Regions from separate parts of the Homo sapiens genome. Here region 2 is linked to region 1. The links come from fine-mapping of genetic effects on gene expression. A gene starts in region 1. The other region holds a variant in brackets. All regions are shown on one strand. Distances are between the middles of the regions.

Evidence for each region.
Region 2: its variant is fine-mapped to the expression of KDM5C in whole blood (TOPMed, PIP above 0.99).

What each region holds. Positions count from the first base shown.
Region 1 is chrX:53,220,898-53,229,231 of GRCh38, reverse strand. KDM5C (lysine demethylase 5C) reads left to right here and starts at 4,025. Exons shown (of 26, transcript NM_004187.5): 1 at 4,025-4,492; 2 at 8,316-8,334. The coding sequence starts at 4,343. It also overlaps a transcript of IQSEC2 not described here. RefSeq lists enhancers at 3,704-3,753, 3,631-3,925, 3,764-4,143, 4,384-4,483.
Region 2 is chrX:53,136,657-53,144,990 of GRCh38, reverse strand. It overlaps a transcript of KANTR not described here and the pseudogene ACTG1P10. Among named protein-coding and RNA genes, the nearest start is that of KANTR, 47 kb to the right of the region's middle. The variant C/T (reference allele first, on the strand shown) is at 4,823.

The DNA of each region.
Region 1 (8,334 bases):
GTGTCCTGTGGCACATCTCCATCTTTTTCTGAGCCCTTCCAAGGAGCCCCGGTTCTTTTTAGTAGAGAATGACATTTAGAAACCAAGATTTGGGCACTAGGTGTTACAGCAATATTTTAAGAGCTTGCTCTTTTATTTTGCAAAGGTTTGAGCATCCATTGATGATTTCTAGCTCCATCATTCCTTCTATATAATTTAGAATTCTACTTTCCCTTTTCTCTCACTTTATTTACTTATATCAATGTGGAGTCATGGATTTTTATTTTAACCAGTGAGTTGTAATCCACTACTATCATAATTCATTTTGAATTAACATTACTTTGGATAAATCATTTTATTGTTATGTATATGTATAAGCACATACTATACATCTATATTTCTATACTAGACATCGATATTTCTCTGTCTCTGTCTAATAAACCATGAGTTCACACAGATACCTTGAGGAGGCTCTTTTAAGAGTCCAGGCTAGAGACAGTAAAAGGCTCACAGGAGGAGTGGAAGATGGCAAGGAGGAGGGGATGGATTCTAGAGCTATTTAGGAATCAGAACCAACAGCTTAAACCTACTTCAGAACTGGAAGAGATCATATTTTACAAACCAAAAAAAGTGAGACACAAAGTCAGTGTCAGCCCAGTTGATCCACAAAACATGAATGGGGTGCGTGTGGTTTTGAGCCCAGACGAGCCTTCCAGTCACTGCTCTGCACCAACTCCATGTCAGACCCTGTCTCCCGGGTGGATGGGTGAGGCCAAGCCAGCCCCCAGCCTGGAGTGAGTTTCCTGATGCATCCCAATTCTTAAGTCCCCAGCGTCTAGACTCCGGTTGTCCCCCAGCAAGACCCATGGCTTGGGGAACAAACCCATTTCCTGAATGCCTTACTACATGGGGAGCACCATCTGAGACTCTTACAGGCAGAATTGTACGGCAGTCAGACAGACCTGGGTTTGAGTTCTGGTCCTGCCACTTACTAGCCATGTGACTTGAGTAAGTTTACACTTCCCTGAGCTTCAGTTTCCTCATCTGTAGGATGGGGATAACAATACCTACTTCATAGCACCTGGCCCTTGATGAATGGCAGTCATCATTATCTCTAATCCTCCTAACAACACTGTGAGGAAGGGATTATTTAGCTTCATTATACAAAGGAGAAAATCAAGGCTCAGGAAGATGAGGTACTTGGCAGATCTCAGTGGGTGCATGTCAGCTCCAGGAAAGTAGAGACTACATCTGTCTTGGTCACCATTATATTCCCAGTGCCCAGAAAATTTGCTGGTGCATAGTAGAAATTTAATAAATATTTGTAAACGAATAAATTCTATCTCATTGGCTTCAAAGACTACATAATTTCTATTTAATCTTCTAGGACGGGTGTGTCTGGGCTAAAGGACCTCAAAGAAGGCTGTAGGAAGACTGTGCAGAGCTGAGACCCAAAATCTGGCCTCCTGATTCCTGATTCATGCTCTTTGTACTTCCTTGAGCCTCTAGATGGAAAGGCTGAACTTCCTTCGGCCTAAGATCTACCGTATTCTCCCACCTTCTAGATTCTCCTCACCCTTCTCTGGCCAGGCCTCTGCCTCCTTTTCATCTGTTTCTTCCACGCACCACCACCACTACCACCATCACGGTCACAGCCACGGTGGCCTGGGGGTGCTGCCCGATGGGCAGTCCAAGCTCCAGGCCCTGCATGCCCCATATTGCCAAGGACTGGGCCCTGCCCCACCACTCTACCTCCCACCCCAGCAGCTCCCTTTTCCCTCACCTCCTCCACTCCTGGTGAGGGCAAACGACAGGAAGAGCATTTGACCAGAGTCAGCAACTTCCTGTGTATCATTGGGCAAGTTGTTTAATCTTTCTGGAACTTGGTTCCTCATCTACAGACTGGGTAAATTCACCTACATCTTTCTGAAGACTGTTGCAAAGATTAAGGGAAATAATTGGTATGAACTAGCCATGTAGGCAATTAGATGCTTATCCATGTGAGAGGCTAGTGATATTACTGTGATTAGCATCACTTTGCCTAGTTTTCCTGCTTCCTGTCCAGACAGCTGTTCAGTTGGATCATCCACCTGTGTTTCTGGTGGAGAGGGGCTGAGGTTTCCCCTGACACCTAGAAAACTAGAAAGATGTCACTTAATATCTGTGTCACTTGGGACAAGTCTCCACACGAGCCAAGTGGGGATAAAGATCTTGAACATTCAAGGTAATATAAGGATTCAGGTGATAAAAAAAAAAATACAAAAGCACTAGCACAGTGTCTGACACAAAGGAGATTCTTAATGAGTTTTGGCATATTGGTTGTTGACTCTCAGAAATAAAAATAACAGCTACCAGATACTGAGGGCCTGCTATGTGCCAAGTACACAACAATTCTGCAAGGTATGTATTATCCCCATTTCAGTTACAGAAGTTGGGACTTGTTCAAGGTTACAAACTAGAAAATGGCAGAGCTGGTGGGACTGCAAGGCATGACTCTTTTGAGCCCAGGGCATGAGCTCCTTCCTACCTGTGTGCCCTGTTCCCTCAGCCAGGATGTCCTTAGCTCAGTCCTGAAGTAGGCAGGATGGACCTAATTGGCACAGTATCTGATTAGGAACAGTTAACTGCACGAAGGTATGACACTCCCTATCTGCCTCGAGCTTACAGTGGATGTTTAATATGTTAAACAGGAAATGTTTGCAAAAAGTATTCATATTTTTCAGTCAATATATACTAAGGACATTTATTCATTTTTCTTTTGTTTACTCAACATTCATTTACTGCTTAACATGCCAAGTGCTAAGGATGTATAAGGCCACATGGTCCCTGCCCTTAAGGAATTCATAGTCTGATGGGGGAAAACAAAATTACTTAATCAGCATGTACGCAAGTACTCAAATATTTGCACAGTAGGTGTTCAAACTATATGCAGTAGGTCCACAGCTGATGAATGACACAGATGATCCTCCAATCAGTAGATGCCTGATGTATATGTACAAAGTACTGGTTTGATGATACTCATTCAAAGTACTGTAGTTGCAATGAACCTATTCAGAAACTGCTCAAGGAACATGCACACGATAGGACTAAATGTACATACAGTTGGTACCAAATGCACAGGGGCTATACACAATAAATACAATAAAAGTACACGGATGTTTGGTAAGTGCACTGTAGGCTCACAAATGGGCAAACAGGTGTTTTACACAGTTGACACTGGATAAATACGCCGTTGCTAAACATCCAATAGTTAAAGTATACATACACACAGGCTTATTTTGTAGGAGTATATGCCACAAATGTGTACATGGTAAAAGTGAATACAGAACAGTTGAAAGCGTTCATTAAAATGCTGACTCCCAGTGACTTTTGGGGGGTAAGAATCGAAACCCCATCTCTCTACCTGTAACCTTGGATGAAATAAAGATTTCCTTCCTTTACTTGGGACTCAGAATCCTAAAAATCCATAATCCCCGGGGAGTGAGCAGCTTCCTGCCTTCCTTATTTCAAAGCCCCAGAGGTGTCAGTGTCTAGAGCTGGAGCCTAGTACATCTCCCCCCATCCCGCGGGCCAGCATAAGGGGTCCTTTGCAATCAGGCTCCCAGAGCCGCCTTCCGCGGCCCATACCGTTAAGACCAGGGAGAAGGGACAGAGAACACTGGTGCGGGGCTAGCGACCTGGTTGAGGTCTGCGGGGGAGTGCCGGTTTGACTCCACCACCCACGGACACCAGCTCCTCTTCCGGTCTCCATAACGCGCATGCGCATCACTGGCCTTTAAACGTGCACCGCCGGTCCATCCGGAAAGACGATCCGGCAAACTAATTACAATCTTGTTCCTCCGCCGTTGCAATGAACTATTTTCTCTCAGTCCGGGGTGGTACTTTTGAGTAACCCCTTCCAAATAGAAACCCATACCAGCCTATTTAGCTCGGTCTCCACTATATGAAGGTTTCCTAGGGCTTGGTGTGACGCAACGTATACGAGGCTCGGAAGGACACCCCGCGGAAGGATCCGGTTTGTTGTGGTGTGGGGAGGGGAGACGCTGACAAACCAAGATGGCGGCGGCGGCGCTGAAGGCCGCGGCGTTTGGGAGGTAACTGTGGTGGCGAAGGCTGCGGTAGTGGGGAGGCAACCACACAGTTTGGAAGAAACGGAGCGGGACGAAGAGGCGGTAGCAGTAGAGTCAGCCTGAGACTCTCAGAGCACGACGGCCACACGCCCCCTTAGGCCCTCGGCGGGCGGCGGCTGCCCCGCTTAGGGCCTAGCCTCCGAGCATTGCCTCGGCTTCAAACAGCGGCGGCGCCATGAGTCCTTAAGGGCGGTCCAAGCCTCCCGATCCCTGGCCCAGACCTCGGGCCCACCATGGAGCCGGGGTCCGACGATTTCCTACCGCCACCGGAGTGCCCGGTGTTCGAGCCTAGCTGGGCCGAGTTCCGAGACCCTCTTGGCTACATCGCGAAAATCAGGCCCATCGCAGAGAAATCGGGCATTTGCAAGATCCGCCCACCCGCGGTAAGCCCCGGGGCCGGTTTTCGCCGGCGGCGAGACGGAATGAAGCAGTAGGATAGCCAGCGGCGAAGTCTGGGGCGGAGGGCAGCTCGAGGTGGGGAGAGGGGGTGGCTGGGACCGTTGTGGTTGCGGCGCGGATCGGAAAAAGGGTGTTGGGCCAGGGGTCCTCTCGTGGTGTGAGGCCCACAGGTGACCTGGAGTCAGAGATCCACCCCCACCCCGGCCCTTCAGAATCACTCCGGGTTTAAGACAGGGATTCCTAGTGGGCCGGAGGGAGTTCACAGAGAGGCACCCCGCACATCTCTTAGCCCGGGCCACCTAGGTCGAGGCTGTAAAAATAAGACGTTTCTCCAATCTGTTGTCATCACTTCCTTTAAGGCAGGCAGCATAGTATAGTATTAATAGAAAGATCGCAGTCCTGAAGGGAGACAGACTTGAGTTCAAAACTCCACTTTGAAGCTGAGCAGCTGTGTGACCTTGGGAAAGTAGAAGTAATCTCTCTGAGCCCGTGAAATGGATCCCAGAAATGGTTATTTAGAGGATTGAATTAAACTAGGTAGCGTCTGTATGTAGTACGCACTAGATAAGTGGTAATTATTGTGACTGTGAGGGTGTTTGATGTGGTCATTGGTTTATTCCTATGTAGGTTGACTCATATTTACTCATACCTTGCCAGGCCAATTCATCTATGATAATATCCTGGCCTGCTGGACCAGTCAGGAAATCAGTCTCACAGGGATTGCTCTGTCTCCCTTGAGGTGGGTTCAGGGAATTGTCCTCTTCTTTTCCTCGTTGAAGGCAATGTCAAGGCCTTTTCTGCACATCATCCCGCAGACTTGACTTCCTATGGAGATGTTTGGACCGGTCAGCTTGGTGGTGGGGTGTGAGTCCTTCTCAGAAGATTTCTACTCTCCTCTGGTCCAGGATGTAGGAGATCCCAGAGGATAGGGCACTCTTGGGCCCGCAGAACAGAATGGAGCCATGGAATTCTGTCCCTTTTGGAACATGATTGCCAGGGGTCAGCAACAAAGGCCATAGCTTTCCTCCTAGGCCTGGCTTCAGGCTAGAAGTCTCCCAAGGGCTAGGGCAAGCTGCTGCCTTGCTGATATGGTGGAAAAGTGATGATAATGTTCAGTGATCAGTTGGGATTCCAAGGGCAGAAATTGAGCTTTGCTGGAAAAGGGTGTTTTTGAGTGGGTGTCTCCTGGCTGAAATGGAATAGGAAGCTTCATTCCCACCTGAGGAGGGCACCACAGGCCTCCTTATCCAACTTGGTGCTTTCTGGTGCTCAGCCACAGATCTAGGATGGTTTCAGATAGATCCTCTAGGAGGTGTTGGGTAAGCGAATTTCTTCCTTCTTGGAGTCTGGCCACAGATTTCTGAGGTATCCTTGTCCATGGTGAGGGAGTGGCAGTGGGTAGAGGGTCAGGAAGGCTAGTGGAAGGGAGAGGCAGGAGTCCTGGGCAGCCTCAAGGAGGCACTCCCTGAAGTGGTTGGGCAAGCCTGTGGGAAAAAGAGGCATAGCTGACGTAGGGGGTAGTTGAGGCCTGAATTCCTTTTTTCTATCTTGGACTGACTTAGGCAGGCTGGCCTTGTGTAGGTGTTGTTACCCTGCTTTGGGGCATCAGGAAGGGGAAGAGTGACATGTCCCAGGTGTGCATGGCCAGCAGGAGGCCGTCCTTTTCACTGCTCAACAGTGTGCTTCTCTCTAATCCAGGATACCTGGCTCTCTGGTTTGGTTTTGTTTTTTCCTTCTCTATGGCAGCTCCTAGGCCACCTTTAGGCAGCTGGCCTTCTTCTGGTTGAAGTTTGAAGTACTCGCTCAAGTGATGCTTGGGCCCAGGGTGGGAACCTGTATATGGGTGGGTACCTGGGAATTGGAGGTTTGCTGGAGGAAGGATGGTTTGGGGCCTGAATTGCTGGGCAGGTGACTGCTACGCTTGGGAAAGATGGGTGGGAGGAGAGTGTGGGTACCCTGAGTAGACCCAGTGGAGTTTGGAAGGATCTTGCTTTCTTCATCAGGTAGCCAGCCTTTTTTTTATCACCACATCCCAGTAATACCAACATACATTTGGCATACAGTAGTCTGGAGATGAAGGCAGGCGGTTTGCAGGGCCTTCCCAGGTATCTGTTGCATCCATGGCTCCTGCCGTAGCATTCCAGGGCTGCCATTTCCTGTCAGGTGCTTGATGTTGCACTGATTGTCTAGAACTTGATTCAGCAGGAAAGAAGGGTGCCCGGAGTTTTGGGTTTGAGCACCTTTTTAGCTGGGTTACCTGTGCTGAGGGGAGTGCCCTATCCTGATGAGAGGCAAGAGGGCATGGGGAGCTTGTCTGGATTTGAGCCATACCATTTTGGCCTGCCTGTTTTTTTTTTTTTTTGTCCCTGCTTACTGAGCCCCAGATGTTTGCCACCTGCTTTGGCTGGTAGGGGCAGGGGAGTGTGGTCTGTGTATGCATGCAAAATATGAGTCCTCTAGCCCATTTTCTAAAAGTGTGTGTGCAGAAGAGGTCAACAGTTTTTCTTCTCTTTCACTGTCTCTCCCCCCCGCCCACGTGTATGCATGTATGTATGAACATTGATGTCTGGTGTAGTGCAAAGGCCTTGGATCAGAGGTCAGAAGACGTGGGTTCTTGGCCCCACCACTAACTCAGCATGTAATTTTGGAAATTTCACTTTTTTTCTCTGAGCCTCACTTTCCCCATTTATAAAATGAGAACATTGGTTTAGGTTACTTTAGGTTGATTTCACCACCCCAGCAGGAGCCAGGGCTCTGGGAAGGAGAGGTCTGCATAGGAGGTTGGAAAGGGGTGTTGGAGAGGGGGTTCTTCACAGCTGACCTTTGGGCAGGACACAGCAAGCTCCAACTTGGCAGAGCAGAGTGTCTCCCACTTTCATGATCTTTCCCTGACTTCCCTCCCCAAATCCTCCCATTCTTTGCCACCACAGTCAGGCATCCCAGCACTTACCCCCACCCCCTGGGGCTTCCTCCCCTGCCTCTTCCTGTACCAGGCAGGTGTATGAGAGAGGATCTACAGGAAGCCTTCCAGACTGGGTGAGTGATACACATACTTGCTCCCTGTTCCTTGCTCTTCCCTGCAGTGTCTATCTCAGGCCCTTTAAACTGAGAGAACAAACATTAAAGGCCCAAACCTTTACGTCCTGCCACAATCGGACCTGAGCTACCCTGCATGTGTATTGTGAGGTGTGGTCAGCCTTAGATGTCAGGTCATAACGGTGACTCCTTTGAATAACATTTTCATTTGAAAACTAGTTTTAATTTTCCATATTGGTCTGGCAAGGAAGCCAGGGCTAGAGTTCATATTCCCACCTCACAGATGAGAAAACAGGTTCAGAAAGCTAAAATCTCATAGCTAGTAAGTAGCGGATCTAGAACATGAACCCATATCTTCTGACTCTAGATCCTGTGTGCTTTCCAGTACTCCCAGGCCTGTGTGTCCTACAGCACGTGCCTAGGGGATAAGGAATTAATGTGGGTGTGGAGAAGGTTTAGGGTCAACAAAACAGAGGCTCCATCTCTTAATTTCTTGAAATCCTGGCACTGTACTGTTGGGTGGGACTCAGGAGAAGTTTCCTAGGGCATGTGCATGGGGCCTTGGGTGCAGACTTGAGGGGCTGCTAGACTCTTGTGAGTTCTGGGGGGAGGTGGGGGTGGGTGGTTGGGTAGGATGTTTGCAGGTTAAAGGGTCTGGAGTGGCTAGAGGTTTGGGAAGGTGCCAGTGGGATTCCGAGCTGCTTTTGGTGACTTCCGGTCTTACACTATGCTGAGATAACTCAAGTCCCTTTCCCCTCTCTACCCTCTCAGGACTGGCAGCCACCCTTTG
Region 2 (8,334 bases), 84 kb after region 1:
TAGATCTTGAAATCTATAAATTCACCTTACTGTACAATATGGATTAAAAGTACTTGAGACACAGAACGACTAAGGCAGCTGCCTGGAGACTTGGATCCACTAAGTGGCTGAACTGAGATTTACATGGGAAAGATGAAAATTACATGAAATAAATTGTGTAAGGGACACTGGCTGATCATATGCAAAACGGTCTACTTATTTCAGAATAAGAACAGTATTCTTTAAAAAACACCCAGGTGTAGTAAATATTCTCTGGTGGTTAATAAAAAGTCTAAAAATTCACAAAGTATTCCCTACACTCATGTATGGACTTTTTTTTTTCTTTTCTTTACAGTGGTGCAATCTAAGCTGACTGCGACCTCCGCCTCTCAGGTTCAAGCCACTCTCCTGCCTCAGCCTCCCAAGTAGCTGGGATTATAGGCATGTACCACCATGCCCGGCTAATTTTTGTATTTTTAGGAGAGACGGGGTTTCACCATGTTGGCCAGGTTGGTCTCAAACTCCTGACCTCTGGTGATCCACTTGCCTCAGCCTCCCAAAGTGCTGGGATTACAAGCGTGAGCCACCATGCCCAGCCTAGACAGATTTTTTGTTTTTGAGACAGGGTCTGGTTCTACTGCCAGGCTGGAGTGCAGTGGCACAATCTCGGCTCACTGCAATCTCTGCCTCCTAAGCTCAGGCAATTCTCATGCCTCAGCCTCCTGGGTAGCTGGGACTACAGGCACGCACCACCATGCTTGGCTGATTTTTGAATTTTTAGTAGAAATGGGGTTTCGCCATGTTTCCCAAGCTGGTCTCGAACTCCTGGCCTCAACTAATCCACCCTCCTCGGCCTCATAAAGTGCTAGGATTACAGGCGTAGCCACCCAGCCAAGGAATCAATTTAATTAAGTAATTCTATTGTTATATGTTTTCCTATTTTTTTCTAAAAGAAAATAATTAAGAATAAATTTCCATCAAAAATCAGTATTTGGCTAATTGTTAACTTCAAAATCCAGTAATACAGTCACTTGCTGCCACCAGCCCCCACACCGTGTCTTCCCATGGCTCCACCGCCCTGCTCTTCCACAGGTTGCAATGGAAATAGAGATCGCCGCGCTCATCATTGACAATGGCTCTGGCATGTGCAAAGCTGGCTTTGCTGGGGATGGATGGCCCCTGAGCTGTGTTCCCCTCCATCATCAGGTGACCCCGGCACCAGGGTGTGATGGTGGGCATGGGCCAGAAGGACTCCTACATGGGCCATGAGGCCCAGAGCAAGCACGACATCCTGACCCTGAAGTACCCTATCGAGCATGGCATCATCACCATCTGGGATGACATGGAGAAGATCTGGCACCACACCTTCTACAACGAGCTGTGCATGACCCCAGAGAAGCACCCGGTGCTGTTGGCCGAGGCCCCTCGAACCCCAAGGCCAACAGAGAAAAGATGACTCAGATCATGTTTGAGACCTTCAACACCCCAGCCATGTATGTGGCCATCCAGGCCGTGTTGTCCCTCTAAGCCTCTGGGCGCATCACTGGCACTGTCATGGACTCTGGAGACAGGGCCACCTACATGGTACCCATCTACGAGGGCCATGCCCTCCCACCACGCCATCCTGCGTCTGGACCTGGCTGGCCAGGACCTGACCAACTACCTCATGAAGATCCTCACCAAGCTTCACCATCACGGCCAAGCAGGAGATTGTGCGCGACATCAACGAGAAGGTGTGCTACATCGCCCTGGACTTCGAGCAGGAGATGGCCACTGCCACATCCTCCTCCTCCCTGGAGAAGAGCTATGAGCTGCCTGATGGCCAGGTCAGGTCATCACCATCGGCAACAAGTGGTTCTGGTGTCTGCAGGTGCTGTTCCAGCCTTCCTTCTTGGGCATGGAATCCTGCGGCATCCACAAGACCACCTTCAACTCCATCATGAAGTGTGACGTGGACATCCGCAAAGACCTGTACGCCAACACAGTGCTGTCCAGCAGCACCACCATGTGCCCTGGCATCACCACGCTGGCATCCAGCACCATGAAGATCAAGTTCATCATGCCCCCAGAGCACAAGTACTCGGTGTGGATTGGTGGTTCCATCCTGGCCTCACTGTCCACCTTCCAGCAGATGTGGATTAGCAATTAGGTATGTGGCCCCTCCATCATCCACTGCAAATGCCTCTAAATGGACTGCAAGCATGTGGGTTAGCCATCAGGTATGTATGATGAGTCTGGCCCCTCCATTGTCTACCGCAAATGCCTCTAAATGGACTGCGAGCAGATGTGCAGCATTTGTTGCATGGGTTAATTCAGCAGTATAAATTTGCCCCTGGCAAATGCATACACCTCATGCTAGCCTCACAAAACTGGAATAAGCCTTCAAAAAGAAATTTGTGGCCAGAAGTGGTGGCTCACGCCTATAATCCCAGCACTTTGGGAGGCCGAGACGGGTGGATCACAAGGTCAGGAGTTTGAGACCGGCCTGGCCAACATGCTGAAACCCCGTCTCTACTAAAAATACAAAAATTAGCCAGGCATGGTGGCATTCGCCTATAATCCCAGCTACTGGGGAGGCTGAGGCAGGAGAATCACTTGAACCTGGGAGGCAGAGGTTGTGGTGAGCCGAGATTGCACCACTGCACTCCAGCCTGGGCAACAGGGCGAGACTACGTCTCAAAAAAAAAAAAAAAAACATACACAGAAAGTTGTCCTTGAAGCTTGTATCTGATATCAGCACTGGATTGTAGACTTGTTGCTGATTTTGACTTTCTATTCAAGCTATATTCAAGTTAACTGTTCCCCTTGGTATCTGTTTAATACCCTGTACATGTCTCTGATTTCAACCTTTAGTACATGTGGCTTGGGCACTTTGTGGCTGAGGTAAGAACGTGCTTGTGGAAGACAAGTCTGTGGCTTGGTGAGTATGCGTGGTCAGCAGTCTCCAATATGTGCAGGGTATTAATGTGTCATCAGGGCTGAGTGTTCTGGGATTTCTCTAGAGGCTGGCAAGGGCTCCTGAACCAGTTGTTTCTGTCCTGCCGGTCTGTCAGAGTTGGAAAGTCCAAGCCATAGGACCCAGTTTCCTTTCTTAGCTGATGTTTTCCTGCCAGAACACCGTGGGCTGTTACTTGCCTTGAGTTGGAAGCGGTTTGGATTTACACCTGTAAATATATTCATCCTTTTAATTTATGTAAGGTTTTTTTCTACATAATTCTAAATTCTTTAAAGAGATGACAACAAATTTTGGTTTTCTACCGTCATGTGAGAACATTAGGCCCCAGCAACACGTCATTGTGTAAGGAAAAATAAAAGTGCTGCCGTTAAAAAAAAATCCAATAATAGAGAGTGGGAGAAGGAGCAACTGGAGAGGGAGAGTGAGAGCAAGAAAGAATGAGGGACAGAGAGAAAGAAAAAAGGAAAGAGGAAGGGAGGGAGGGAAGGTAAAACAATGGGGGAATAACAACTAAGAAAATGAAATCAGTTATGTTCCTTTAAAGCAGCACCTAATAATAGATGCTGATTCTGATAATAAAAGATATAGCTTCCATGTTACCAGAAAAAATTGTGAAAAGAGCAGATTGAATCTAATAAAGTATTTAAATACTACACATATGCACACCAACAAAGTATCATGATGAGCAGGAGGAAGGCAAAAATCAGGTTAAGTCGAATGATTCCCACAGAAGGTCAGAGAAGTGCTGTATACTGCAGCCCCCACACAGCCCCTCTCTGGTAGTAGGAGCCATGCACTAGATCTTGCACTGGACCAAGACGTTCAAAGAGGGAACTGTGTGAAACACCACACTGTTCAAATATAATTTCAAAATAATTTTATTTTACTTATTTTGAGATGGAGTTTCGCTTTTGTTGCCCAGGCTAGAGTGCAATGGCACGATCTCGGCTCACTGCAACCTCTGGCTCCTGGGTTCGAGTGATTCTCCTGCCTCAGCTTCCTGAGTAGCTAGGATTATAGGCATGCACTACCACATCTGGCTAATTTCGTATTTTTAGTAGAGACGGGGCTTCATCATGTTGGTCAGGCTGGTCTCGAACTCCTAACCTCAAGTGATCCACCTGCCTCAGCCTCCCAAAGCACTGGGATTACAGGCGTGAGCCACCACGCCTGGCCTTCAAAATAATTTTAAACTAGAAAAACACAGTTACAAATGTTAGAGATACTTTAAAAACATTTATCATTATTTTAAAAATTATAACTATTGATAACTCTCACCCCTGGAACTGAAATGCAGCACTGTCAGGTACCTGGGCACACAGACTAGGAATCTCTACTTTAATGAGAGAAGGCTTGCACTTTTTTTGCCCTTGGAAACTTCTAATTTGGAGGGACATACATTTTGTTTTTGGCCTTTTTGTGCTTAATGTGTGATGAACACCCTTGCATATGGCCCCTTATATATCTGTGTACTTCCCTGGGATTTATTGTACCCAGGAACAGAATTGTTGGGTCATACAGTAAATGCATATACTTTTTTTTTTTTTTTTTTTTTGAGACAGAGTCTCACTCCGTTACCCAGGCTGGAGGGCAGTAGTGTGATCTTGGCTCACTGCAACCTCTGCCTCCTGGGTTCAAGCGATTCTCCTGCCTCAGCCTCCTGAGTAGCTGGGATTACAGAAGTCCACCACCACATCCAGCTAAGTTTTGCATTTTTGGTAGGGACGGGGTTTCGCCATGATGGCCAGGCTGGTCTGGAACTCCTGAGTGACCTCAGGTGCTCCACTTGCCTCGGCCTTCCAAAGTGCTGGGATTGCAGGCGTGAGCCACCGCACCTGGCCCAGTAAATGCATATCTAATTTGACAAGGTACTTCCAGACAGCTCTT[C/T]GGAACAGCTGCCCTAGTCCACACTCCCATCAGCCATGCAGGAGGGTTTGTAGGTCCTTACACCCCCACCGCCACTTGGCATTATCCTGCTTCTTAAATTTGTCGGGCTGATAAACTGGTATCTCACTGTTATTTTAATTCCTCATACTTGCAATGATCTTGAACACCTCATCATATACTGCTGGCTTTTCAAATTTCTTCCTCTGCAAATTGACTATTGTATGCTTTGGCTAATTTTCTATTGGCGTTGCTGTCTTCTTTTTCTTTCTTCCTTCTTCTTTTGTCCTTCCCCTTCCTCCTCCCCCTTCCTCCTGCCTCCTCCTCCTTCTTTTGTTTTGTTTTTAAAAACAGGGTCTTGCTTGTCACCCAGGCTGCAGTGCAGTGGCATGACCACAGCTCACTGTAACCTCAAACTACTGGGCTCATGTGATCCTCCCACCTTAGCCTCCCAAAGTAGCTAGGATGACTGGCATGTGCCACCACAACCAGGTAATTTAAAAAAAAATTATTTTTTCTAGAGACAGGGTCATGTTGTATTGTCTGGCTGGTCTCAAACTCCTGGCCTCAAGCAATCCTCCTGCTTCAGCCTCCCAAAGTACTGGGATTACAGGTATAAATCACTACACCCAACCTCTCTTCTTGATGATTCACAGGAAATCTTTTTATATTCTAGGTATCAAATCCCTTGTTGGTTTATGCATTGCAAATATCCTCTCCCAATCTGCACATTATCTCTTACTTTTGTCCATAGTGTCTTTCATTGAGCACAAATCCTTAATTTTGCTATAATCCAATCATCTCTTCAGCATATGGATTATAGTCTTGAAGTTTTGTCCAAGCCCCTAGGTCACAGACATCTCCCTACAATTTCTATTAACATTACAGTTTTATTTTCACATTTAGGTCCTCAATCTACCTAGAATTCCTTTTTTTTTTTTTTTTTTTTTTGAGACGGAGTCTCGCTCTGTCACCCAGGCTGGAGAGCAGTGGCACCATCTTGGCTCACTGCAACCTCTGCCTTCCGAGTTCAAGCGATTCTTCTGCCTCAGCCTCCTGAGTAGCTGGGACTACAGGCACACACCACCACACCCGGCTAATTTTTTGTATTTTTAGTAGACATGGTGTTTCACCATGTCTGGTTGACCAGGCCAGTCTTGAACTCCTGACCTCAAGTGATCCGCCCACCACAACCTCCCAAAGCGCTGAGATTACAGGCGTTGAGACACTGTGCCTGGCCCCTAGAATCCATTTTTGTACATGTCATGAGGAAGGGATCCAGTTTTATTGTTCTCTGTCATGAGCCAGTTTTCTCAACACCTTTAACTAAGCAACTGTCCTTTCTCCCTTGATTTGTTATACAATAGGTTTTTATATACAGGTGTCTGTATCTATGCTGTTGTATTGGTCTACTTGTCTGTTTCTGTGCCAATGACACATTGTTTATATTTCTTTTTTTTTTTTTTAAGACAGAATTTCGCTCTTGTTGCCCAAGCTGGAGTGCAATGGCGCAATCTTAGCTCACCGCAACCTCCACCTCCTGGGTTCAAGCGATTCTCCTGCCTCAGCCTCCCGAGGAGCTGGGATTACAGGCATGCGCCACCACACCCAGCTAATTTTGTACTTTTAATACAGGCATGTGCCACCACGCCCAGCTAATTCTGTATTTTTAGTAGAGATGGGGTTTCTCCATGTTGGTCAGGCTGGTCTTGAACTCTCGACCTCAGGTGATCCACCCGCCTCAGCCTCCCAAAGTGCTGGGATTACAGGCGTGAACCACAGCGCCCAGCCTATATTTCTAAATTCAAAGAAACAAAGGCCGGGCGTGGTGACTCGCGCCTGTTGGGAGGCTGAGGCGGGCGGATCACCTGAGGTCGGGATTTCAAGACCAGCCTGACCAACGTGGAGAAACCTTGTCTCTACTAAAAATACAAAATTAGCTGTGCGTCGTGGCGCATGCCTGTAATCCCAGCTACTCGGGAGGCTGAGGCAGGAGAATCACTTGAACCTGGGAGGCGGAGGTTGTGGTTAGCCGAGATCACGCTGTTGAACTAAAGCCTGGGCAACAAGAGTGAAACTCCATCTCAAAAAAATAAATAAATAAAAATAAATTCAAAGAAACAAGAAAGAAATAAGGCAGAAATAAATAAAATAGAGAACAAAAGATAACAGTGAAAATTAAGCAAACCAAAGCAGATTCTTTGAAAAGACCAATAAAAGAGACAGACTTCTGACCAGTGATCAAGAAAAAAACAAAAAGAAAATTAAAAAACCAAGATATAGGCCAGGCACGGTGGCGAAACTCTGTCAAAACAAAAAAACAAAAAAACAAAACAAAAAACAAGATATAGAATGATAAGGGGGGCAATAACTAGGGAAAAACAGATTTTTTTTTTTTTTTTGAGATGGAGTTTCGCTCTTGTTGCCCAGGCTGGAGTGCAATGGCACGATCTCAGCTCACCGCAACCTCCGCCTCCAGGGTTCAAGTGATTCTCCTGCCTCAGCCTCCCGAGTAGCTGGGATTACAGGCATGTGCCACCATGTCTGGCTAATTTTGTATTTTTTTTTTAGTAGAGACGGGCTTTCTCCATGTTGGTTAGGCTGGTCTCGAACTCCCAGCCTCGGGTGATCTGCTCGCCTCAGCCTCCCAAAGTGCCGGGATTACAGGCGTGAGCCACTGATCAGCCTCCCAAAGTGCTGGGATTACAGGCGTGAGCCACTGAGCCTGACCAGAAAAATAGATTTTTTAACAGTGAAGAATTATGAATGACATGCCAATGAATTAAAAAACCTAGATGAAAATAAATGATACATTCTTAGAAAAATACACCATGCTAAAAATGGCACAAATAGAAAGGCCTTGAATAGTCCAGTAAGTATTAAAGAAGTAAAAATGGTAGTCAAAGAACTGTTCTCTCTCAAAACCCCAGTGGGTTTTGTAGGTGAGCTGCAGCAAACCTTCAAGGTATAGTTAATTCCAATCATATGCACAATAACAAAAGTAAAACCTATTTATTCCACTTTTTGAGGTTAGTATAACCTAAATTATAAAACTGGATGGGAGAACCCAAGAAAAGAAAATCCTAGGGCCACTTAGAATGTTATGGTTCAACATCAACAGTATACTAATGTGGCCAGGTGCAGTGGCTCATGTTTATAATCCCAACAATTTGGAAGGCTGAAGCAGGAGGATTGCTGGAGCCCAGGAGTTTGAGACCAGCCTGGGCAACATAGTGAGATGTCTCTACTAAAAATACAAAATTAGCCGGGTGTGGTGGCACATGCCTGTAATCCTAGCTACTCGGGAGGCTGAGCCAGGAGAATTGTTTGAACCTAGGAGAGGGAGGTTGCGGTAAGCCGAGATTGTGCCATTGCACTCCAGCCTGGGCAACAAGAGCAAAACTCCATCTCAAAGACAAACAAACAAACAAACAAACAAAATATATATATATATATATATATATATATATATATATATGCCGGGCGTGGTAGATCTTGCCTGTAATCCCAGCTAC